Homo sapiens: one gene and its partners. The protein of the gene in region 2 purifies or fractionates together with the protein of the main gene of each other region. This does not show direct contact. Each region holds a gene or a part of one and is shown on either strand. Other genes may lie near its edges.

What was found.
Region 1: the proteins of TNFSF8 (region 2) and OCLN purify together in Homo sapiens (co-immunoprecipitation; 3 studies listed by BioGRID and IntAct, with this or other methods). This does not show direct contact.
Region 3: the proteins of TNFSF8 (region 2) and CYB5D2 purify together in Homo sapiens (co-immunoprecipitation; 3 studies listed by BioGRID and IntAct, with this or other methods). This does not show direct contact.
Region 4: the proteins of TNFSF8 (region 2) and TOR1B purify together in Homo sapiens (co-immunoprecipitation; 3 studies listed by BioGRID and IntAct, with this or other methods). This does not show direct contact.

Annotation. Positions count from the first base shown.
Region 1 is NC_000005.10:69,488,852-69,495,792, reverse strand, and holds the start of OCLN (occludin), read right to left. Parts: upstream 3,004-6,941; 5' UTR 2,893-3,003; intron 768-2,892; exon of another isoform or gene 378-767; intron 1-377. UniProt on the Homo sapiens protein: May play a role in the formation and regulation of the tight junction (TJ) paracellular permeability barrier.
Region 2 is NC_000009.12:114,927,570-114,934,791, reverse strand, and holds the start of TNFSF8 (tumor necrosis factor ligand superfamily member 8), read left to right. Parts: upstream 1-4,200; 5' UTR 4,201-4,488; coding exon 4,489-4,683; intron 4,684-7,222.
Region 3 is NC_000017.11:4,153,182-4,158,218, forward strand, and holds the end of CYB5D2 (neuferricin isoform 1 precursor), read left to right. Parts: intron 1-1,492; coding exon 1,493-1,679; exon of another isoform or gene 1,680-1,742; intron 1,743-2,108; exon of another isoform or gene 2,109-2,243; intron 2,244-2,765; exon of another isoform or gene 2,766-3,012; intron 3,013-3,684; coding exon 3,685-3,901; 3' UTR 3,902-4,516; downstream 4,517-5,037. UniProt on the Homo sapiens protein: Heme-binding protein which promotes neuronal but not astrocyte differentiation.
Region 4 is NC_000009.12:129,806,164-129,811,797, reverse strand, and holds the end of TOR1B (torsin-1B isoform 1 precursor), read right to left. Parts: intron 4,611-5,634; coding exon 4,435-4,610; intron 2,894-4,434; coding exon 2,766-2,893; exon of another isoform or gene 2,730-2,765; intron 2,457-2,729; coding exon 2,215-2,456; 3' UTR 1,572-2,214; coding exon of another isoform or gene 1,465-1,571; 3' UTR 517-1,464; downstream 1-516. UniProt on the Homo sapiens protein: May serve as a molecular chaperone assisting in the proper folding of secreted and/or membrane proteins. Plays a role in non-neural cells nuclear envelope and endoplasmic reticulum integrity. May have a redundant function with TOR1A in non-neural tissues.

The DNA of each region.
Region 1 (6,941 bases), on a different chromosome or scaffold from region 2:
CTCACTCCATCACACAAAACTTGTTTTTTTTTTCAGAGCAAACTCCCCTCTGCCCTCATACCTAAAATATAGGTATCATCTCCACCGCATCTGGAATGCCCATATCCCAGACATCAAATGTCTATTTTGACCATCATTTATATCCCTGGTCGCTGGAACTAGCCCTGGCACAAAGTGATTGTCAATGAGTACTCAATTAATAAAACCAACAGTCAATTATTAGAGTTGGGATTTCAATCCAGCAGTGAATGCCTTGAAGTTCTTCACACAACACTCAATAAACGTTATTTTTTCCAACTTCAGTTTGTCAAATGTAATTAAGTGCGTAGAGTCTAAGAGAAAGGGAGAAAAAGAAGACAGAACAGTCTGAGAATCACCTGTGAGCCTGTTAGAAAGGCAGAATCCCAGGCCCCACTCCTGACCTCCCAATCAGAATCTGTGTTTTAATAGGATCCCTAAGTGATTCATACCACAGCCAAGACTGGAATCACTGGGTTACGGAACAGCGGCAAGCCTAGGGGTTAAAACAAAAAGCCTAACATAAATCTGCATGGTCTGTTTACTCTCTTATTTCCATAAATAGTAATTTGATGAAAAAGATCCATTAATATTCCAATCAAATAAGCCTTAAAATGCAACTGAAGAAAACTTCCTTCTGGGAGGTTCCTAGGAAGATGAAAGATATTACATCAGATCATTTATGTGGTTAAAAGTAATATACTATTTTGAAAAGGTAGTAATTCCAACACTACCTTTAGAAGAAAACAAGAATTTTACCTTGATATCAAGCAAAATGCGGGAAATCTTGTATCAGGCTACAGTTACTAGTCAATGGTAGAAAAGTCCAGAAAAATTCCCCAAATCTGGTTCTGGAATATCAAGGACCGCTGCTTCTGATACTCCTTCCCATATTAGCTGAAGCAGTTTGCAAGCAAGCCCACCTGCAACGTTTCCCCCACGGCATTTGCCCACTTTTAAAATGGAGTTCTACTAAGGCCTGCCTTTTAGAGTTGTTGGGATAATTAAATGAGAAAATACAGAATGCTTTTACCACAGTGCCTCACGTGCAGGAGGCACTGCTGCCCACTATTTCCCGAAATGGCCTGGAAACTGCCAAAAGGTGGAGAATCATGTCTTACCGATCTCCCTATCCTCTGCTCCGTCACCTAACAAAGGAGGCCCCTAATAACTAAATAAATTGCAAAACGACCAAAAAAAAAGTGTTGCTTTGTTTGAGGAAATATCTCTGCCTCCCACACACACTTAAGATGTCTATTTTAAAGCACCACTAAGAAAATATTCATAAAGGCTGGGTGTGGTGGCTTACGCCTGTAATCCCAGCACTTTGGGAGGCCAAGGCGGGCGAATCACCTGAGGTCAGGAGTTCGAGACCAGCCTGACCAAATGGCAAAACCCTGTCTCTACTAAAAATACAAAAATTAGCTGTGCATACTAGTGGGTGCCTGTAATCCCAGCTATTCGGGAGGCTGAGCAGGAGAATCGCTTGAACCCGGGAGGCAGAGGTTGCAGTGAGCCCAGATGATGCCACTGCACTGGGGGACAGAGCCAGACTCCGTCTCGGAAAAACACACACACACACACACACAAGCACCTCATATGTACAGTGCAAAAGAACTACTGTTACTATTGTTACACTTGGGAACGCCTAGTTTTCTATCACACCAAGAATCACCAAAAAACACCATAAGTGCCTTCATGGGAAACGTTTCTCTTTTCCAGGTATCCCAATAATACACCTGTTGCCTAAGGGCCACACACTGACTGGCCTGGAAAGCCGCCGCCTCCTCCTCGAGCAGGGTAATTCCCCAAGCGGGCAGTGTGGCCAGCGAGCCCCGGGTCCGGCCTAAGGATGCCGCGGCTTTTCCCTCGGGCCCGGTGGCTTCCCGAGGAGCGCGAGGGGCTCGGCGCCGCTCCCAACCCCTAGGCGCAGAGGCCATCTTGGCCCTCGACCCCTGCTCCCCGCACGCTTCCTCCGACGCAGGCAACATGGCTGGCGCGCGGGGCCGGCCCAGTCCCGGAGGTCCCCAAACTCCGTGGCCCGGCTGGGCGCGGGTCCCGGCTTCCGTGCGCACCGAGGCGCTCCCAGGCAGCGCGCGCCCACGTTCGCCGGGCAGGCACCGCCCGGAGGCAGTTCCGCCCCCCTGGGGGCAGCCCTTTTGGTCACGGATGAGAATCCGAAGCGTGAGCAGCTTCCCTCGAAGTCCAGCCTCACTCGAAATTAACTCCCCGCCCCCCAGCTTAAATCGACGCGGGTTCACACAACTCGCAACAAGTGGATTCGAAGTAGCCAGTGTGGCCCACACCGTGACTCCTGGAATATTTCACAGATTGAATCCAGCCCCCGTCTCCCCGGGATATCCAAAGGGGTGGGGTGGGAGCGGAAGGAATGAAATTCCCCCCGGGATCTAAGCCGCCCGGGCCGCCGAACAGCCGCCTCGCTGCAGCCTCAGGCTTAGGACCCCCAAGGAGCTGGGCGCAGGATCCCTCTCCATGAAGGCCGCCCCCCCAAACTGCAGCCCCAGAGCGGATGCAGGATCGTCGCTGTTCAGGAATGTCGTGCCCCATAAAAGTGAAAAGTTGCCCGCGCCGCTGAGGCACTGCTAGCTTTCAGCGTTTCCGCGGAATAAAGCTTGATCGGCGGCTCCAAGCCACCCCTCGCCCCAGGAGGCAGCCTCCCAAGTTGGCCGGTGCTGCTCTCTCCGCAGACCCGCGCCTCTCTGGTTCCCACGAGTCCCAGCTCGGGGACGAAACTGCCACCGAAACCAGCGCGGAGCGTCCTCCCCCCGGCACCTCCCCTAACATAGTCGCCGCGGTCCCCCCACGGGGACCCTCGGGCTCCCGTGCGCCCCTGACGCCGCGCCCAACACTCACCCGCTCGCCGCAACTGGGCCCGACCCTCCGGGGGCCAACGGTGCCAGGGAGCGCGCTCACCTGGCGGGCGCACCTGACGCCGCACCGACCGCCAGCGCTCAGCCGGGGACTGGGCTGGGGACGTCTCCTCCCCCTTCTCCCTCTCCTTTCCCTCCTCCCTACAACCGGCCCTGCCCCCGGGCATGCGCACCAACGTGGAAGGGGGTGCGGGAAGCCTGCGGGCCAGCGCCGCGAGTCCCACCTGCTGCGTCCTAGACCGGCTCCTCGGCGCTCTGGACCTGGCTCTCGGTTCCTGCCGCCTCCGCCAGAGGAAGCAGGGAGGGAGAGGTGGACGCGGGAGTGTAGGTGTGGTGTGTCGGCCTCCTCCCTCGGTGACCAATTCACCTGAAACTCGGATGGGAGGGGGCGGGAGGACGCGGTCCTGCTTCCCACACCCTGCCAGCGCGCTGTTAAAGGAACCGCGCGACGTTGCGGCCCGAGAGGCGGGGCGCAGAGGAGAGGCGCGGGCTCCTAGGGGGCAGCACGGATGGGGGTCCCTGACCACCCCGGGGTGCGTTCGGTGCTCCGCCTGCTTCGGATGGAACCTTGGGGTGTCTGATGGAGAGAGGCCGAACGAGGTCCAGAGGGGACTGTTTCCTCCGGAAAGAGGGTCCAGGCACTCAGCACTTTGATAGGAAAGGCACGTCCTCACAGGACACTTTTCTGCTTCCAGAATTTGATTAAACTGTTGCTGGAAAAAGGCATCTAGATGTATTGCTCCAACGAAAGACTCCTGGGAAAATTTCAAAAGTCGTGTGTAAACATTGGCGCTGTTTCTGAATCTCTAGATTCAGAATAAGAGACAATTACTTAGAGGGGTTAAAATGAGGGTGAACTACTGTAGGTGTTAGTTGCCATCCAGCAGGCTAAAGTGCATAATACAGTTTACACATCACCACCCCAGGGTCCTCTCCTGCCCACCCGGTCCGCTCTTGAGGACCGGGAAATTTAAACTATTATGGCTCTTTGGCCTGAGAAAAAGCACCTTATACGTTGTTTACCAACCTGTAGTGCTTTAAGAACAACACTACTTAAAAAGCAAAATAAACTTGGTTTACTTTTTTTTTTTTTTTAAGAAAACGAAAAAGCACCTTAGTTCCGGGTGCTGTATTCTATTTCTTGATCTGGATTCTGTTTCCAAGGGAAATTTCATAGTCTGCACTTAACACTGTGTATATTTTTATGTATGTTGGTTGTTTTTCAACATATTTTTTAATTGTACTCCAGGATGTGGCAATTATAGTTCTTGGCATTTAACTATCTGCATTGAAAGCGAACTTTTAGGTTTCTTACATCCTGCTTGTCTTTGTGTTCCAATCTGGAATGTCAGCATTGCTAATAAATTTCTATCCAATCCCACCCACTTCTCTACCTTTAATTAAATGGTTAGAGATGTGACTCTCCCATACATTAGATCTTAAGGCACAATTCATACTTGAGGAAGTAAAAGCACTATATAAATATGAGGTATTTCAGATGATGGCAGCTTTAATGGGTAATTAATTTAATTGGTATTTTTTTCGTGGAAGTCATTGCTACAAATGCTTTAATATGACTATGTAGTTTTTGAATGATGCAGTTTAAATTGGTATTGTTAACACTGGGGAAGTCAGGTTAATCCCCTTAATGTTCCCTGTCAGATTACTGAAATCTCCAAACATTCCATTTGGTTTATAATTAAACAAGGGAACATTTCCTAATACTCTCAGATTTGTAAACACATGTCTATTATTTTATAATGTATTTTGACATGTTCTGAAGAGATCTTAGGAGTTTTTTTCCACTTTATAAAAGAGAGTTCACATACCATAAAATTCACCCTTTTAAAGGGCACGTACAATTCAGTGGGTTTTAGTATACTCACCAGATTGTACAACCATCACCACCATCTAATTCCATTTTAATCGCCCCCAAAAGAAACCCCATGCCCATTAATAGTCACTCCCCATTTCCCCTCTCCCCTCATCCCTCGGCAACCACTAATGTACTTTCTGTCTCTATTAATTTGCCTATTCTGGACATTTTATATGAATGGATAATACAATATGTGCCCTTTGTGTCTGTCTTCTTTCACTTAGCATAATATTTTAAAGGTTCATCCATGATGTAGTATGTATTGGTACTTCATTCCTTTTTATAACTGAATAATATTCCATTGTATCGATGTATCACATTTCGTTTAATCATTCATCTGTTGATGAACATTTGGGTTGTTTCTCCTTTGGGGATGTTATGAATAATGTTACTATGAACATTTGTGTACAAGTTTTTGTGTGGACATATGTTTTCGGTTCTCTTGGTAAATTAGGTTTTTAAATTAAACTTTTTATCATTTTAAGATAACTTATGCATATCATGTTATTTTTCTTATTCCCACCCTAAACCTAAACTCAAAGACATGTTGTGTTGGGTAGAAGGCTTTCATATTCTATTTGCTTTCCCAATTCATTCCTTCAACTATTTTCTGAGTGCCTAATCTGTACACACACGAGTGAACAAAACTCAAAAATCTCTGTGAAACTTACTTTCTAGTTAGTTCTGAGTTCATCCATATGGAATAATAGGATTCATTAATTGTATGAATTCTATTTTATTCGCTTGAGATTAATTTTCTAAACAACAACATCAAAAGAACGGTTAACTATTGTCCAATATTGTGTATATTTCATAGTTGAAAGTGTCTAGAAAGAAAATCCAGCCTTAAAACTTAAACACATCATTCTTCAATACCAAAACAAAATTTGTTGGATGTTAAATGATGCCATGCTCAATTTAATCATGTTACATAATCATAAATTATAGCAAAATTTAATTACTATATTTTTTACCAAATATTCCTTCTTGGCAACTCACAGTAGTATTGAGTAGTATCCACTATTGAATATTATTTGATGAAAATCCCCGTGACTCAGAGCAATGTAAATATTATTTTCAGAACCCCATGATTAGAAACTTGTTGACTTTACCTGCAGTCAAATGGATAAGATGAAAAGACAATTTGTTTCTCCTTTTCTATGTGTAAAAGAGAAACTTAAGAGCTCAGATTATGGTGTCAGAAATCTCAGTTCAAATTCCAGTGTTGCTACTTGGTAGCTGGGTAGGACTAAAGGAAATTAAACTATGTAAGGTTCATTTTTTTCCACCGTAAATTTGAGATGATAATAAACAATACTGTCTTTATAAGTCTGTTGGTGGGAATGTGGAGCATTCACCAAGACAGACTATATGCTGAGCCACGAAACAAGTCTCAATAAATTGAGCAAGCCATTGCTGTATCCTATATGCCTGAAATAGTTCCTGTCACATAGGAATTACATAACTATGTGTTGGATGAATGAATGAATGACTATAGCCCTGCTTCCCAAATCCAACATGCCTGTGGAGTCTTGTCCTCCTCTCAGATGGCCTCCTGCTATTGTGAAACCCGCACGTTCCTTAGTAGCATTTCAAGGCTTACATCTCTAGTACTAGGGTTTAGAGGAGAAAAGACGGGAGATTAACATAGTTCCACTGTTTCCACTCTGCCTTGCCTGCTTAGTAAATGAATTCAAAGACTGGTATGTGTCCAAGGCAACTCAGTTTGGAGTTGCTGAGGGCCTGGCCTGAAAGGCCTCTAGTTTCTCTGCCCAGTCATGAGGAGGGGGAGGCTTCTGGTCCACACAGGACAGTTTCCTTGGACAGGTGTATGGAAGAATTTATGGGGAAGCCACTAGGAAGACAATTTCTAAAAGGATGATTACACTAGATGAGTAAACCTTTATCTTCTCTATTCCTATGTGTTAAGCAAGATCCTCCTGGGAGGAATCCATATTTAAACAAAGAGACTCAGCACCTGAACAGGAACTTCAACAGGTGGAAGAATAATAATAGCACCATTTACTCAGGGAAAAACATGTTCTAAGTACTATGCTAAGTGTTTTTTTGGTTTTCTGTTTGTTTGTTTTGAAACAGAGTCTCCTCCGTAGCCCAGGCTGGAGTGCAATGGTGTGATCAGCTCTCTGCAACCTCCG
Region 2 (7,222 bases):
AGCCGTAGTCAAGGTTAGAAAGAGGGCTCAATAAAGGGAGCAGAAAAACTAGTCTGTAAACCAACATGACCCAGCTACATGGCCCCAGACAATAACTTTTATTATGCCTCAGTTTCCCTACCTACACAATGGAGGTGGTAGTTTACCTGTCCAAAGGCTAAATTTTGGACCAGATGATCTCTTGGAGATTGTTTCCCTAAATCAGTGTTTTTCAAATGGTCTCAGGCATCTGCATTCCCTGGGGTGCTTTGTTAAAACAGACTACCAGACCCCAGCCTGAGTTTCTGAATTAGAGTAGGTCTAGAGGGTCTTAAAGTGGCACCAAGTTCCCAGGTGCTACTGCTGCCACTGCTGGTGTGGGCTTACACCTGAAGGCCTCTAGTCTCTACAACAGAGATCTCCCAGTCCCTTATACAGGAAAGCAATGTTGGAGGAATGGCTACTGCTGGCTTCCCTTTACTTTTCAAAATGGCTTTCCTTCTTGAAGGGATGAGACGTTAGTTCTATTTGCCCACTGAGTCTCAGGCACTGCAGCCACATCTCAGCAGCCAATTCCAGGCTGAAAGGAGGCTGGGTGGTCACTCTCATGAGGCCATTCTCTGGAGAAAGATAGAGACACGGAGTACAGTTGAGAAGAGAGAGGCAAGAATGCCACCACACAATTCCTTTACATAAGCCACTCTTCTAGAACTTTCTCTTTCCATAAACATGAAGCATAGATTGAAGGTCAACCCTGCATATATGACCAGCAGCAAGAAACGCAAGGTGGGATGCAAGGACTTAGAAGACTAGGAAAGTGCAGACCGCCCTCAGGGACTCTCATCTTATGAGCAAGGCAACATTTACATGTGTTTACACACTTGGGTTCCACATCAAGAGAAGTAGATAATTAGACAATTAGGTTATGTGGCATGAAAATAGAGGCATTCCAGAGAGGGTGTTGGTGGACTTGAGAGATCTGGGCAAGCATTCCTGGAGATGGTGAGGCGGGTTGGCAAAGGCTGGAAGGGAGAGGAAGAACAGGAGCAGTGGAAAGCCAAGTAAAACACGAGAGGAAGCCTGGATGCACCTGGAATATTAGCAGAGCCGACATGAGAATGAGCAGAGAGGGCCGGGCAAGCAGAGGGGGTTGGGTGCGGTAGCTCATGCCTGTAATCCCAGCACTTTGGGAGGCCGAGACAGGCAGATTACGAGGTCAGGAGTTCAAGACCAGCCTGGCCAACATGGTGAAACCCTATCTCTACAAAAGATTAAAAAAAAAAAAAAATAGCCAGGCCTAGGGGTGTGTGCCTGTAATCCCAGCAACTCAGGAGGCTGAGGCAGGAGAATCACTTGAACCTAGGAGGCAGAGGTTGCAGTGAGCCGAGATTGCGCCATTACACTCCAACCTGGGTGACAGGGCGAGACTCAGTCAAAAAAAAAAAAAAAAAAAAAAAAGGAGAGAGAATGAGCAGAAGGGACTCTTACACCTGTCTCTCTCCCTGATGGTATGTACTTCCTTTAGTTGTTCCCATTTCTGTGTCCCAGTTTCCTCCTTTTGTGGAATGAAGGATTCAAGCCAAATTTTCTGAAGTTTCTAAATTTTATTCACCTTGGAGAGACCCCATGCCAGAAAAGGGCAAATGAGCAGGTGAAGCTTAGCCCTTCTCTTTGTCCCACCTGTGCTTCAGCCAAAGCAGCCCTGTTTTCTTATGTTTTTATATTCCTTATACAGCTTTGCTTCCAGAAAGGATTTAAAACTTACTCAACAAGAAATTCTATAAAGGCTCCTTCCATCTGCACATCGTACAGCTTGAGTAGAAGACAGAAAGAAGCCAGTTAGCACAGGTCATGGATTTCTATGTTGGCCAGGCTAGATTCTAGAACAGCTGGAAAGCAGAGAGGGGCTTAGAGCAATGGGGGTGGGAAATAGGGAGCCACTGAAGGTTTGTGAGTAGAGGAGTGTCACAGCAAAAGAATGAATTGAGCCCACAAACTACTGTACTAGGAACTGATCCGAAAATCTCAACTGCTCAGAAAGTTGAGTAAAAACAAAGGGTGATTTTTCCCCCTTGTCAGCCTTCCCTCCCAGGACATTGTATTGTATGCAAAACGGGTAACTGTAAGACAAACATTTTTTTCCACTGCCCTTCTCAGCCCCACAGGCCTTCAGGAAGACCCGAACTTCAAGCAAAGCCTTTTTATTTTTCAACACCCACAGCTTCCATTCAACAATCAGAAGTTTTCCACTTTGATCAAAGAGGCTGAACAAGAGGGCCAAGGGAGCAGCTGGTTCTCAGCAACTCTGGGCAGACCACAGAGCCCTTGCTACCCACTCACTGTCCGTGCCCACCAGAGGACACAGCCTTCTCCCCAAATCAGCCAGGTACATGCCCCAGAAAACACTGGCTTGCCTCGTTCCCACCTTAATTACCGGACCAAACGAACGTGAACACACTGTTTTCAAAACCAAACTCAATTGGGATCACGGGGGCCTCGGTTTCCTTGATTGTAAAATGGGTATATCGCCCCCCACTCTATTTAGCCCAAGAAAACAATTTATCTCTTGATGTCTCTTTCGTCTCCAGGATCTATGCTTTTACAGACTCACTGGGAGGAAATATCCAGACCAAATCCTAAAGCCTGATCTAATTTGGGAGATGCTCAGAAGTTTTGGTTCTATGCAAGAACAGCAGTGGTAATAATCCAAGCTTGGCTTTAGACACAGGACGTTTCCTTAGGGGCATCTGGGATCTCTGCTGGCTCAAAGTGATGCGCTGCAGACAAAAAGTGAGCAGAAAGGAAAGGAGGTGCTATGCAGAATGAGCTTCTTCCACGGTGATACCAAATGGAGCTTTCAAAGGCCCACATCTGGAGGCAGCAGCTATGCAGTGATTAACATTTTAAACGGTATTTTGAAATGGAGATCATTAGTAACCACAGATGTGATCTGACTCTGTCCCCCAGGTAATCTGTCTATTGTATCTAAATTCCAGACTTAGCCCAGTAGACAGCTTGGGATGTTTAACAGGAATTGTCCAACACCATCCCCAAATCTATTTTTATTCATGGAGTACTCTGACATCATCTCGCTTGGTCTTCCTGATGACTGTAATGCAGATTGGGAACAGAGAAAGCCATAAAGACTTGTATGATGGCCCAAGGCTAAGAAGGGAAAGGGCTGAGACCACACTTCAGGTTTTAGCTTTCAGGTGCAGTGAAGATTGAATGACTTAGCACGAGCTTTCAGCCAGGCAGGCTGCAAAGTGCACCCAAGTTCTTTCAGTGATCGACACTTGCGACTTAGGTTGAGATAGTTTTCATCCTCCCTGAGCCTCAGTTTTCCCATCTGTAAAAAATAAACATTGCCTGCCTCGGAGGGTGGAGGTGGAAGTGGAATGAAGCCACATGTAACTCCTAGCGCTGTGCCTGAGACAGTAGAGGTTCAATTATAGTAGTCACATACACACACAACACATACATACACAAGACACAACACACCACACACAACACATACATACACACCACACACAACACTTACATACGCACCACACTCGGCATGCATTGCAGATCACAAATGCACACCACACACACACTGCATACATATACCATAGAGAACACACAACACCTACACATACCCCCATACCACAAATACACACACACTACATAGTACACCACGCAGAACACACACAGCCCCCATATTCCACACCACACCATCTCACTGCCAATTCCTTCCCCTCTTCATGAGTTTTACGGCAGGTCCAGGTTCATCTGCCAGTTTAACAGATCCCAAAACTTCTGCAGGAGTGTTTGTTCAAAAGATTGATATTTCCAGATTCCTGCTTTCTGACAGTATCTTTGAACCCCAAATTTCATACTGCCATGAGCCAGTCCCCCTTTGGAGAAATATCTCCATTTGTGTGCCCTTTTTCCCCCAGGGAACCTGCAGCATGTCCCTTTTTCAGCAGTAGCCTATCAAACCGAACCCTTTGGAGTTATTACACTGCAGTCCGAGGGATCCGGCCTCCCTGAGACCCAGCAAGGACTCATTATCTGGGGAGGTCTTCTGAGCCACAGGCCTCGCTGAAAGAAGGTGCAGCTTCTTGAACAGGAAGGCGTTTTGTGGCAGAGTCTAAACGAAACAGAAGTTGCTTTGTGTGTGCGCACGCATGCACACACACACACACACACACACACATACACACACACAGTCGGGGAACCGTCATTTTCCTACGCGCCCTCTGACATCAGCCACCTTCTCTGTAGCTAGTTTCTCTGCACACAACTTAATCCCTGGCAATGAAAAATGAACCTCTCCCCCACCCTTGCTGCCGCCTCTCGCCTCACGCCCCCAGAGAAGAGTTTCTCCACCAGGCAGCAGGTGAAGGTTTTTTTCCAAGTCACATGATTCAGGATTCAGGGGGAGAATCCTTCTTGGAACAGAGATGGGCCCAGAACTGAATCAGATGAAGAGAGATAAGGTGTGATGTGGGGAAGACTATATAAAGAATGGACCCAGGGCTGCAGCAAGCACTCAACGGAATGGCCCCTCCTGGAGACACAGCCATGCATGTGCCGGCGGGCTCCGTGGCCAGCCACCTGGGGACCACGAGCCGCAGCTATTTCTATTTGACCACAGCCACTCTGGCTCTGTGCCTTGTCTTCACGGTGGCCACTATTATGGTGTTGGTCGTTCAGAGGACGGTAAGTGGACTCCTCTTCCTCCCTTTCCTTTTCTTGTTGTTTTCCCGAGAGAAAGAGCCCTGGGAACAAATGATATTCGTTTGTTGGTTAAGAGCACAAAATAAAATTAAATAAATAAACTCTCTCTCTCTATATATATATATATACTATAGTATATACTGTATAACGTAATACACTTATGTTACATAATATATATTATATTATACAGTATATATTATATATATATATATATATGAGAAAGGGAGAAAAGAAAGAGGAACTTAACTCTCTAAAATAATTTGGCTTGTTGAGAAAAATATTGTTAGACCATCATCTTAAAACTTTGCAGATCTGTCTGAGCAAAACAGTGGAGGGGAGCTATTGGCCTTTTAAAGTTAAGATTTAAATCTTAATGAGCCAGAGACCCATATCAAGGAAGGAAGCAATAGAGAAACCTGATAACACATTTGCACAAGTTGTTATCATGTCTTCAAGGACTTCAGACTGGATTCTGAGGTTCTATATCCTAAGTCTGAGTGTCCTGGAGGTTTCTGAGGCCTCACCCATTGCCAAGAGTTTTGTTTTTGCTTTTGTTTTATACAAGGAGCTAAGTTTCAGAGGCCAAGGTCTAGAAGGAAAGGAGGCGAAAGAGAAGACCATGGCTTCTTAGAGCTTTGGACATTTTGGTGTTAAAGCCAGCAAGACAAATCGAAAGCTTCCTCTTAAGCCACAACTTTGAAGAAGTTAGGGCGTCACAAAAAAAAAAAAAAAAGAAACAGCACATAGAAGCAGAAAGTTGAAAGGTTTTTAGCACCTGTTCTCTCTGATGTTCCTCACAATACTAAGCAATCGTTGGGTACACACTGTACAGGGTCAGACTGTCTTCGGAGATTTACTTTGAAGTAAATGGTAAGATTTGTTTCTGAAAACAGAAGAGGAGGAGAAAGAGGAAGCTTCTTCATATTTTAGAAAATTGGTGTTTACAGAGAATCTACCAGTATATATTATATAGAAAATGCTGTAGTAATAGCATATATTGCTCATGAATTTTTTGATGAAGTTGTTAATGGGTAATTTAAGAGCTGCACCCACCCACATGACCTGCCAAAGTGAGAATATTTCTGTTTCTTACTTCATAGTGCCTACTTTTCGTGGTATTATAATCCTGCTGAATTTATTCTGGTTTTTCTTCAGTTTTCTTAGGCCAAGTACTCTATAGCTTATCAATTGCTGGAAAGAACTAGGCTTTAAAAGGCTTTGATATCTATTTCTCAAGTGTCATCAAGCTTTGAAATTAAATGGAAGCTTTGAAGCTCATATCTCTACAAAAGTGAAAAGAAGGAGTTGCAAATATTTGATTTAGATAGTGGAATTCTTAAAACTCATAATTTAATGGCTTATCTACATCTATTAAGTATAATAATCTTGAAAACACTTTAGGACATCTTTTCTTCTGCAGGGGCTCTGCAATTTCTGTAATTCTAATTTGGAGTGAACCAAGGGTATGTCATTTTATAGCAATGGCCAAAGAAAAGAAATTGAAGTGTCCTTTAAGAAGTTCTTTAGTTAAAGGATCCAACTAGAACTGCTGAGAGAGAGAGAGAGATGGTGGAAAAATGGGTGGCGATGGTGATATATAAAGCTAGAGAGAACTTCAGAGCTCATTCATATCCAACTTTTAGTTGAATTGATTTCTTCTATAAAAGAACCAGAGCAGATCTTTCTGCCTCATTTTTGTAAATGTGGAAAATGAGGAGCAGAGAGGGAACAGGGCTTGAACTACGTCACCCTGAGAAAGTGGTAGAGCCAATACTGCTTGATTGCTTGATGCAAGCAGCATCCCCTTTGCCAATACAGACAGCCACAGAAGCACTAAGAAACATTGCACCCACTCTTCTCTTGGGAGCTTTATCTTCTTGTGCATCCACTTCCTTGACTTACCCCTCATGTTTGGATATGAAAAGATTCACTGTGCAATCTGATTGTACAGTGCGGTGTGCTGTGATTTCTTAGACCAGGAAATATCAGTTGCTTCCTTAAAATTAAGGCTTGCCATGTTAATAGTAGCCGTGGTATATAAAGTGTCAAATGCATTGCACATATCATTTTCAATAAATTCCTCAGACCTTAACTGTTGTAAGACCTAACAAGAAAAAAAAAAGCATCATTTTCCCATTAACTTGAGTTATCAGGAAGGGTTTCCTATAGGAAGATGGAATGTAGACTGACTTGAAAACAGGAAGAACTCAGACAAGTGAAGAGACTCTAAAAGAAACTCTAGGAAAGAAATCAATGGGAGAAAGCCAAGGAGCTTAGACTCACATCACCATTATTAAAAATGGAATGAGTTAATGGTCAATTAGCACTCTGTATGTGATGGGAACAGGGGTGGAGAACCATAAGAATGGTTTTACTGGCACAAGAAGTCACACAATTCTTATCCCAAGGCACGTGTATAGACAAAATTTAAAACAGCTAAGTCATAACATATAATGAGTGATTAAAGGGATACCATGACACCACAAGTTAAGGAGAGAATATATTTTTCCAGACAGGTTTA
Region 3 (5,037 bases), on a different chromosome or scaffold from region 2:
ATACGTTTGGGAGCTTTGGCTCCTTTAGAGCACATGCTCAGGAGTGGCTTCTTGGAGAAAATGACCGTTAAGCTGAGACCGGCAGGTGAGTGGGAGGCAGCCACACCGAGACCTGAGGAGAGTGTGCTGGGTCAGGGAAGAGCGGTGCGAAGGTGGGGAGTGGGGAAGCACAGCCAAGACACAGAAAGGAAGCCAGTGTGCTGGAGCCCCCCGTGAACGAGGGGGGACGTAGCTTGTAAGAGGCTGAAGAAGCAAATCAGTTAAATGGTTACAGGGCCTTAGAGGCCTTGATAAGAAATTTGCATTTTTGTCTGCTTTAAGAAGCCATTGAAGGGTTTTAATCAGGCATCGGAGAGCCATGGTAGGATTCATGTTTTTAAAAGATCCCCTAGTTGTTTTATGGACAGAGAACTCTAGGAGGGCATGAGCTGACCAGAGAGCAGTTAGGAGGCCACTGCCACAGTCCGTGGTTTGGAGGAGGGTGATGGCAGTGGGAATGGAAAGGAGTGAACAGAATCAGGATCTGTTCAGAGGTAGGACTGACGAGGTTTTCTGATGGATCCGATCAGACAGCAAGGAAGGGAGTATGATGTGGATGTAGAGGAGGAGGAGTCAGGCTCCTAATGCAGGTCACAGGCTAGAGGCAACACGGATTTGGGAAAGTCAGGGAGGGCGTTGGACTTGGGAGACGAGCTGAATCTCAGATGCGCTGAACATACGCGCCACTAGAATCGAAGGTAAAGCTAGTTCTTAGGGGTTGCTCCCTCTTCGGTCGCACCTCCCTCAAGTGCTTCCTTTCTGCTTCTCTTGCCTTGTGGCAGGTGCTGCCTCTGAAGGGCATTTGCACCTCAGGACTGGGCTACATTAGGACCCTGGGCTGAGAGAACTGACCTGTTTTTCCTTCTGGCCTATAGGCTGGTGGACCACTTGCTGGCTGCTGCCATAGCTTAGACTTTTACAAATTCTGACAGGCATTTTAAAGCCGGGCACAGTGTGACTTACACCTGTACCCCCATCTACTCAACAAGCTGAGGTGGGAGGATTGCTTGAGCCCAGAAGTTCAAGACTAGCCTGGTCAACAGAGTGAGACCCCATCTCTATTATAATAAACATTTAAAAAATGTTAGCCAATAAGCCATTCATTCATCAAACATTAATTGAATACCCAGCGTGTGCTCCAAGCACATGGAAGCATGGAGAAATGAATCACACATGGCTGTGCCCTCAGGGAAGCCTTGTCTGGAAGTGAGAGAGGTTTGATGGTTTCTGTGCTGAAGGGCTCTGCAGCTAGAAGAGGGATGCAGCTGTGTGGGGGCTTGTAGGGTGCTAAGAGGTTGGTGTGCAAGGCACCAGGAGTGCCTGCAGTAGAAGTTCTTATTAAACGCGCACCAGCAGGACTGAAGTCAGAAACCCTGGGAACTTGTGCCTTCCCACACCTGCCTCAGCAGCTGAGTATTCACTCTCACTCACATCTGCCTTCCTGTCATCACAGGGAGGGTGACAGGACGGTTCTACGGAGAGGATGGGCTGCCCACCCCGGCACTGACCCAGGTAGAAGCTGCGATCACCAGAGGCTTGGAGGCCAACAAACTACAGCTGCAAGAGAAGCAGACATTCCCGCCGTGCAACGCGGAGTGGAGCTCAGCCAGGGGCAGCCGGCTCTGGTGCTCCCAGAAGAGGTAAGCAGGCTCCCCTTCTTCTCCTTTCTGCCTGTCCCAAATCCAACTCCTAGGCCATCCTGCCTGCAGTATTCAGTGAATTCAGGAATTGATTGTTAACCCTGGGGAGCTTTTTCAAAATACTGATAATAATTCTCAACTTTGGCTGCATATTAGATCTTCTGGGGAATTGCCGAAATTACGGATGGTCAGACCTCACTCCACTCAACTGAATGGGTTGAGACTTGGACTTGAGGCCTGGGCATCTTTTTATTTTTTCCGAATTCTCCAAAGATCCTGCTGACACAACCTTGACCCGGGAATGAGAAGGCACAAGCAGGATTTCTTGCTTTCTTTGGCCTGCTCAGCCACCCACGGGCTTTGGTTTCCTGTTTGACAGCACAAATCATGCCTATCTATAGGAGAGGGACGAGGAGGTGGGGAGGGTACCTGCAGTGATGGCTTCAACTGCTGTCTTAAAAACAGGTGAGGCGGGCATGGTGGCTTGTGGGCCACACCTGTGGTCCTGGCTACTTGGGAGACTGAGGCAGGCAGGTCGCTTGAGCTCAGGAGTTGGAGTCCAGCCTGGGCAACATAACAAAAAAACAGTAACAAACAAAAAAAACCACTGCAAATTCGGAGTTCTCAGCCTTAAATGAGCGGAGCAAGGGCAAAGGTAGCAGGAAGGAAAGCTCCTTCTTTCCTGGCCGCTAGCTTTGAAGAGACAGCTTCTCCAGTGTCATCTCAAGAAAGAGGGGACTGTGAGAACCTGGCCTGCTCACTTTATGGAGAGAAGCTAAGATAGGCGTGGGCCTTCCTGTGACACAGGCCTGAATGCAGGTAGCCTCAGAGAGCACTGGTCTCTGAGACTCCAGGAGGAGGAGACTCCAGGAGGCCTGCGTGCGTTCAGATGCTTGACTTTGCTTCCTTGGGCCCTGCCTCCTTTTCCCTCCCCACAGCCTTCCCCTGTGTCTCCTGAACCTCTTCTTGCTTTCATGACTGAGTAGTTCAGGCTCTGCCTTCCCCACAAAACCCTTCCAGGGCCACCCTAGTGAACTGCGGGGCCCTATCCCTGTGCCTCAGCTCAGTTTGTTGTCTTCTGTTCACCTGTGTGTGTCCCATTAGACTGAGAGGAACAAGTGCCGAAGGCAGGGACAAGGTGTGGAGTACAGATCCCCAATGATGGGATGGAGGCTGGGTAGAAGAGGGAGGCGTTTGGGTGACAGCCTTGTTCTTGGTAAGCTAGAAGTAGGATGTTTTCTCGCTGGGGGCAGTTTCTCTGACAGCAGGCACCGGAAGCTGTCTGAGGCGTCAGTTCCAAGAACCTCAGTTTCTTTCTTGCAAGGCCTCTGAGTCCATCAGAGACTGAGCCCAGTGCCCTGAGGTGGGCAAGGCCCCTGCCCAAGATAGGAGGGTGCTCAGGTTGTTGGGCCACAGCTGAATCCTCCGTGTCTGAAGCCTAGTGCCATCAAGGACTGGACCTGTGGGGCACAGGACAGCTTGCAGCTACACTCTATGCCAAGGGCTTCCCAGAGAAGGCCGACCCAGGTGGCCAAGGGCCAGGGCCCAATTGCCCACCCCCAGCCAAGTGCCCCAGAGAAGAAGGTGAAGACCCTGACCTGCGCTGGGTTGTAGTGGGGAAGGAAGAGGACAGTCGCACCCAGACACTGCTTCTGAGAAGCTCACAGGCCAGCAGGGGAAGCCCTTTCACAGCTGTTGCCACCAGTGCAGGAACGTGGTGCTGCCTCCTAAGAAGGGGCAGGGCAGGGGCTGGGGAGCACAGTGAAAGGAACCATGGACTGTGCCCTTGGCCTGGGGAAGGTGGTGGTGGCCCTGCAGGGGAAGCTGGAGGATGTTAGGAGAGAGCATGAAGGCTCAGGGGCTGAGCGCTGTAGCCTGCTGCCTTGGGAAACACTCTGGTAGGCTTCTACTTTTCAGAAGGCCTGGCTCTCTGCTTCCTGCTCTCCCCTTCCCAGAGACTCATGAGTTCTCACATTTAAGAAGTCCTCTTTCCGTCTATCCTTAGTGGAGGTGTGAGCAGAGACTGGATTGGCGTCCCCAGGAAGCTGTATAAGCCAGGTGCTAAGGAGCCCCGCTGCGTGTGTGTGAGAACCACCGGCCCCCCTAGTGGCCAGATGCCGGACAACCCTCCACACAGAAATCGTGGGGACCTGGACCACCCAAACTTGGCAGAGTACACAGGCTGCCCACCGCTAGCCATCACATGCTCCTTTCCACTCTAAGCCGTAGCCTCTTCTGTTAATAACACACAGAGAGCTCTGCCAAGCACCTGAGTAGGCCCTTGACACTTGTGTGCCCTGGGATGCCTCCTGGCGCGAATCAGGAGGGTCTGGAAGGACTCTGGCTATATTCTGCAAATGTGGCTCATGCCCCTTACCGTGGCTCGGCGTTGTGGTGCCTGAGGGACAGCCGGCCACCTGCCCAGTACTGGTCAGCTTTTCAACACTATTCCCTTTGACCTACTGGCCATCTTCCTCACAGCCCTCAGATATCAACGGGCACAAATAAGACCAACTCAATTTCCACTTGAATTTACAACCAAAAGCCTGCTGAGTTGATTACAGCTGGGCCAATACAGTACGAGGCAATAACAAATTAGTGTGGGTTGATTCTGGAATTGGAAAAGCTTTTGCTTGTATGGATACAGCAAATCCAGATGTCTCTGAACAAAGCAACAATTTAAAGCAACGACATTTTCTGTCCTTTAAGCACTTAAAATCAGGTGTGGTGTGTTTTCAAAGGCAGAAGTCTGCATTTTGAGCAAAAGGTGGCTTCCCAGCTCTAACAAGGTAACTGGTTAGCATGACATTAAAGCTTGGGCAAGGCTTCAAACTTAAGGTGGCTGGGCTTGCTGCTTGTCCAGTGGTTTGTATGTCCAGCGTCATCTGGCAATGTCATACCTGTTACCTCTTGACTACTTGTGAAGGTAGATGGGGGCAAGGAGTGTTCCTACTTCAGACAGAGAAGTGGGACCAGCACTACCACAGACAGCGCCACGGCCTCTGTGCATCGCCTCATCAGAGCTTCCACCCAGCTCCCTTTGCCGCTCAGTCTCACCCTCAACATCCACCAGCTTCCTCCCTCTCTGTCACTGTCTCCTTTTTCTCCATCATTCATTTCACTAAATCGCTTTCCAGATTCACAGACTAGAAAATGGAGGCTGCCTCCCCTTCACTGGCAGACCCGTACTCACTGCCCCTGTCCCCTTCACTGGCAGACCCGTGCTCACTGCCCCTGTCCCCTCACTGGCAGACCCGTGCTCACTGCCCCTGTCCCCTCACTGGCAGACCCGGGCTTATTGCCCCTATGGCCACAGCTGTTCCTTACACTTGGGCTCTGGCTCATGGCTCCTTTTGCC
Region 4 (5,634 bases), about 15 Mb from region 2:
CACCTCGGCCTCCCAAAGTGCTGGAATTACAGGTGTGAGCCACCGCACCCGGCCAGGATTTATTTACCAGTTTCAATGGTTAGGTTTCCTCACCTGAGCTCAGGTTCAGGCTGTCAGAGGTGAGTTTTACTTTACCAGTACCTCAATTTCCTCCCACGTTAATTTTGGGAGAAAGTCCATCTCTTTGATGAAATATCCATCAGCTAATTTAACTTCTATTTGTCTGGGGAAGAGCCTTTAAGGTAAATATTGCTTCTGTATCGCGCTGACTGCCCACCCGCCTGTCCCGGATATGGTGAGTCTCACAGCTGTGCTGCTGAAATTCATTCTGAACTTTGGAACCAAATAAACTAGAAAAAGTTAGCAAGTGGCATTTCACATGATAAAATCTAGAATTTACTATTTTATAGTCAGTAGGTCAATAAAGCTCTCGTCCACATCTTATAAGGGAGGTGGGGGAGGCGGGGTCATGATCAACCGTAGCCTTTTCAAGTTACAAATCAGTAACGGCAGTCCAAAGGTGGCAAACATATTTATTGCCTCACTGTAAATAGAGAAAATCTTGTCTTCTCTCGACCAGATGCCCAAAAGGTTATAAAAGAAGTATAACTTAGCTCCAATTTGAGGATATGTACTAAAAATTTTAAACGTCACCTTGGTGTTTTTTTCAAGACTAAGTGTGATACCACGTAAGGCATTTCCATGTCATAAATTAATTCTACCATATTTTTATGTAAAAAATGCTGCACGTTGTTGTGTCTGCAGCTGTGCTGTGATTATGAGACAGATACAATGATTCACACTGGCTGGAAGCTAAGTCTCACGTCCCAGGGATCAGGGCAGTCCAGCCCGGTGCTGCCACAAAGGGTGGTGGTATCAGGTCACACCTAGGACCTGCCACTTTAGACTGACCTTGTTTGATCCACGGTTGTGACCATGTATTACCACAAATTTAACAATAAAAAATTGTTTTAAGAGTATCTGAGAAAGGACTAAGCAGTCATTCCATTTTGTGTCCTTCCCTTGTTTTAAAATAAGCAACGTCCTATACTTCCATCATTTAAGATCATCAAGCTGACTTGTTCAGTCTGGGCCCATGTCATCCTTCCAGAACAAGCACATCCTAGGATTTCAAATGGTTCTACAAAATAAAGTGAGAGATTGACCCAAGTATAAAGTCTTAACAAGCATCTCACCATGGGAACCAACGACTCAAATTCAAAGCCAACGGTCTCATTGTGATTCAACTCTATGATATATGGTTGGGGGGACTCTAGCAGAGATCCAAGCTGAGATATGGCACAAGGCAGGCTGGGGCTGATACCAGCTGAGACGGTGAAGGATTCCACAGCCAGGGCTGTATTAGCAGCTAGAGCGATGGACAGGCGGGAGGGGCCTGTCTGTCCAGGTCTGCTGCAGAGGTCTTAGGTGAAGGCCCCACCCCCCCACACACACACACACAGGTCAGCTCAGATCAAGAGTGCTCGGCGGGCACGGCCACATCCTCCGGTCAGACACCGTCTGCACCTCCAGCCCCGATTTTAACTGAGTATACTTCAAGTCAGTGAACTCTGTGTAAAGAACGAGACAGAGCAAAAGGATGTTTTTGGCCAATGAGAACACAGTGCCCCGCAGCCTGCTGGTGAGAACCACCCAGTGCCCCCCAGCCTGCAGCAAGTCCCTGGACTCCTTTAGTTGTGACCGTAGCTTCTGAGGCGCGGGTGCTGTGGGTCAGAAGCTATTGCCGGGCCTGCCATGCACAGCTGTTTTCAGGTACTTCTGTCTCGGTCAGTACATTAAGTGTGAAGGGGATTTTTAAAAGTTCATCTCCAGCTGCAAAGAACAGCTGGACTGCTGCCATCTTGCTAAATGACAAATGCGCGCAATAGATTCACGTGTTTTCCACAATCAACTCTTAGATTCTATATCCCAGCTGGGCACAGTGGCTCATGCCTGTAATCCCAGCTACTCGGGAGGCTGAGGCATGAGAATCACTCAAACCGGGAGCGGAGGTTGCAGTGAGTTGAGGATTGCACCACTGCACTCCAGCTTGGATGACGGAGTGAGACCTCTTCTCAAAAAAAAGATTCTATACCCAAAAGTCTAAGGTGCAAACAGGCAAAACCCCAAAGCGGTCTTCAGGGTTCTTCTGAAAGGCAAGGCCTCTGGCGTGCGGAGCCTCCCAGCTGTCTCCTACCCCATCTGGATAGGAGCTCAGTGGAAATCCAGCCGCGACTGCACAGTCTTGCAGCCCTTGTCTGAGTAGATTTTCTCGTCTCTGGGGAAAAACGTCATTTCCTCTGCCACTCTTGTGACAATGTCTTCATCTATGGCAGAACCACGGGCCCTCATCTCGGCCCTCACACACATTTTCACATGTCTGTACTCCAAAGGCAGGAAGGGGATAAAGTAATCAATGAGGTTTTTGTCGATCAGTCCACTGTGCCACAGGCCACCTGCAGAACAAGACACAGCTGGGTTTCCTGCCACCACCGCCACCTGGCCAAGCTCCAGTCCCGACCCTCAGCACATTCCTCATGTCCGTACCCCTTGAGAGAGTCTCTTGTCAGTGTGCAACAAGCCCATGCAGGACTCAGCTGGACACTCACTCACTGGTTTCTAGCACAGTATGCCCTAAGAAAATTCCTGACTTTAGCAAAGTGAGGAAATCCAGTGGGATCCTGTGGCTTTGTGAAACACTCAATGAAAGAGCAGACGGCTCACTGCTGGACAGTTAAGGGGCTCCTTTACCCTGGTGGACTCACTGTGTTTATTATTGAAGACTCCGACAGACAGTACAGGTTCCAGGTCCTTCAGCTGAATGTCTTCCCTCTTTCTTCCGGCCCGCCAAAAGTCAAGAGCCGTCTTAGTTATAAGGTCCCCGCCTGCATTGCTGAGTTTGCCAGAGAAATAAAGATTAAAATCACATATTAAGACTTCTGTGTCTGCTGGGTGTGGTGGCTCATGCCTGTAATCCCAGCACTTTGGGAGGCCGAGGCAGGTAGATCACCTGAGGTCGGGAGTTCAAGGCCAGCCTGACCAACATAGAGTAACCCCATCTCTACTAAAAACACAAAAATTAGCCAGGCTAATGGTGGTGCATGCCTGTAATCCCAGCTACATGGGAGGCTGAGGTGGGAGAATCGTTTGAATCCGGGAGGTGGAGGTTGCAGCGAGCCGAGATCATGCCATTGCACTCCAGCCTGGGCAACAAAAATGAAACTCGGTCTCAAAAAAAAAAAAAAAAAAAAAAAGACTTCTGTGTCTTACCAAGAAATGAATCTGCTCTAAGTCTATTTTTCCTTTTGAGACACTCTGTCACGCAGGCTGGAGTGCAGTGGCGCAATATCAGCTCACTGCAACCTCCACCTTCCGGGTTCAAGTGATTCTTCTGCCTCAACCTCCTGAGTAGCTGGGATTACAGGCGCCTGCCACGACGCCCCTTCTAATTTTTGTATTTTTAGTAGACACGGGGTTTCACCATGTTGGCCAGCCTGGTCTTGAAATCCTGACCTCAAGTGATCTGCCCACCTTGGCCTCCCAAAGTGCTAGGATTACAGGTGTGAGCCACCACACCCGGCCGAAGATCTATTTTTCATCAAGGAATATTTACTGAGTGCTACTAGACAAAAAAGTGTGCTCTCATGGAACTTAAAGTGTTTATTCACAACTAGCTGGGATAATGCTATGGCCCTTTATAACCCTAAAAACCAACATGCACAGTTAATAAAATTAACTGTTTTCATTTCTGTTTCATTTTTAGGGTCGGGGTCTTGATTGTCACCCAGGCAGGAGTGCAGTGGTATGATCATAGCTCAATAAAACCTTGAACTCCTGGGCTCAACCAATCCTCCTGCCTCGACTTCCCCAGGAGCTGGGACTCCAGGCACATGCCACGATGCCCAGCTAAAATTGCCTGCTATCAGTGATTATTTCTTTTTTTTTTTTTTTTGAGACAGAGTCTCACTCTGTCACCCAGGCTGGAGTGCAGTGGTGTGATCCCGGCTCACTGCAAGCTCCGCCTCCCGGGTTCACGCCATTCTCTTGCCTCAGTCTCCCGAGTAGATGGGACTACAGGCGCCCGCCACCACGCCCGGCTAATTTTTGTATTTTTAGTAGAGACAGGGTTTCACCATGTTAGCCAGGATGGTCTCGATCTCCTGGTGATCCGCCCGCCATGGCCTCCCAAAGTGCTGGGATTACAGGTGTGAGCCACCGCGCCTGGCCCAGTGATTATTTCTTTAGTTCATTTCCACAACCCACACTGTGTGCCATGCTGAGACTGGCAAAGGAAAAGTAAAGCAGTAGGTAAGTGCCTTGTGCCAAGCAGGCACTTTCGTCCTGGTAAACAAAGTGCTGATGGTCCTCAGGACCTCATTTTATCATTGAGAGAATGAAGGGCTTGTGTGCCCCAAAAAACCGCCTCCCGCTGACCTGAGAAAGATGAAGATGGCTTTGCGGTAAGACACTCCGTCAACCTGCTCGTAGTAGTCTAGAAACGGCTTGATTGCGTCAATGATCCCGGGGTGCAATTTATCCATCTCGTCAAATATGAAAACAGAGTTCGCACATGCACTCACATTACCGCGGATCCACTTCTGTAACTGGTCCTGGACCAACCATGAAAGAAGAAACAGGATGCGAAGCTCAAAGGGTGCACCAAGAGGCGCGCAGGCTCCATCTGCTCCTCATGCACTGAAGGACGAGGTCAGAGCTCTTAGAATGGCACCCTCACCCCCACTCGCTAGGTAGCAGCTTTTCTAAAACCTTATCTCTAAAAAGTGGAAATTGGCAGAGATAGATGCTAAAATGCAGAGAAGTTTTTTCCTAACTCAAATGACTATTAAATCTGACTTTTTAAAGGTATAAGAGGTACAAGATCCGTGATTCTTTTCTTCTCTTTTTTGTCTTTGGAAACAGGGTCTCACTCTATCCCCCAGGCTGGTGTGTAGTGGCGTGATCTCAGCTCACTGCAACCTCTGCCTCTTGGGTTCAAGCGATTCCCCGGCCTCAGCCCCCCGTGTAGTTGGGACTACAGGCGCCCCGATCCCCTGCACCATGCCTGGCTAATTTTTGTATTTTTAGTAGAGACAGGGTTGTGCCATGTTGGCCAGGCTCGTCTCAAACTCCTGACCTCAGGTGATCCACCCACCTCACCCTCCCAAAGTGCTGAGATTACAGGAATGAGCCACCCGGCAAGATCCGTGAATATCATTCACTGCTAACGTAGCCATAGTTTTCATCTCTCTTGGACTACAATCTCAAGTTAGTACTATCAGACATACTGAGGAATAAGGAACTAGATCAAGACCTGCACAGTACACAGTGCCCCAGACCAACAGAGCTGACTCAATGACATTTCATGAAAAGCATCTGTTCCAGATGTTTTCTTCAAACAAACATAAAGACACTCAAGCAACAAGCCCTCAACCCCAAAGCGTGAAAGGCTATACCAGGAAACTCCCCCAGACATGCCCTCAACCATTTATATTACTCTGTTTCCGGAGATTTATGAAGAATGTAAAGAACAAGAAAATCCTTCCTTCCTTCCTTTTTAGCAGTCTTCCCTGTCTCACGTCAGTTTGTTGGGCAAACACTTCTACTTCCTTGTTCAGTTAAGTTTCTATTTCTTTC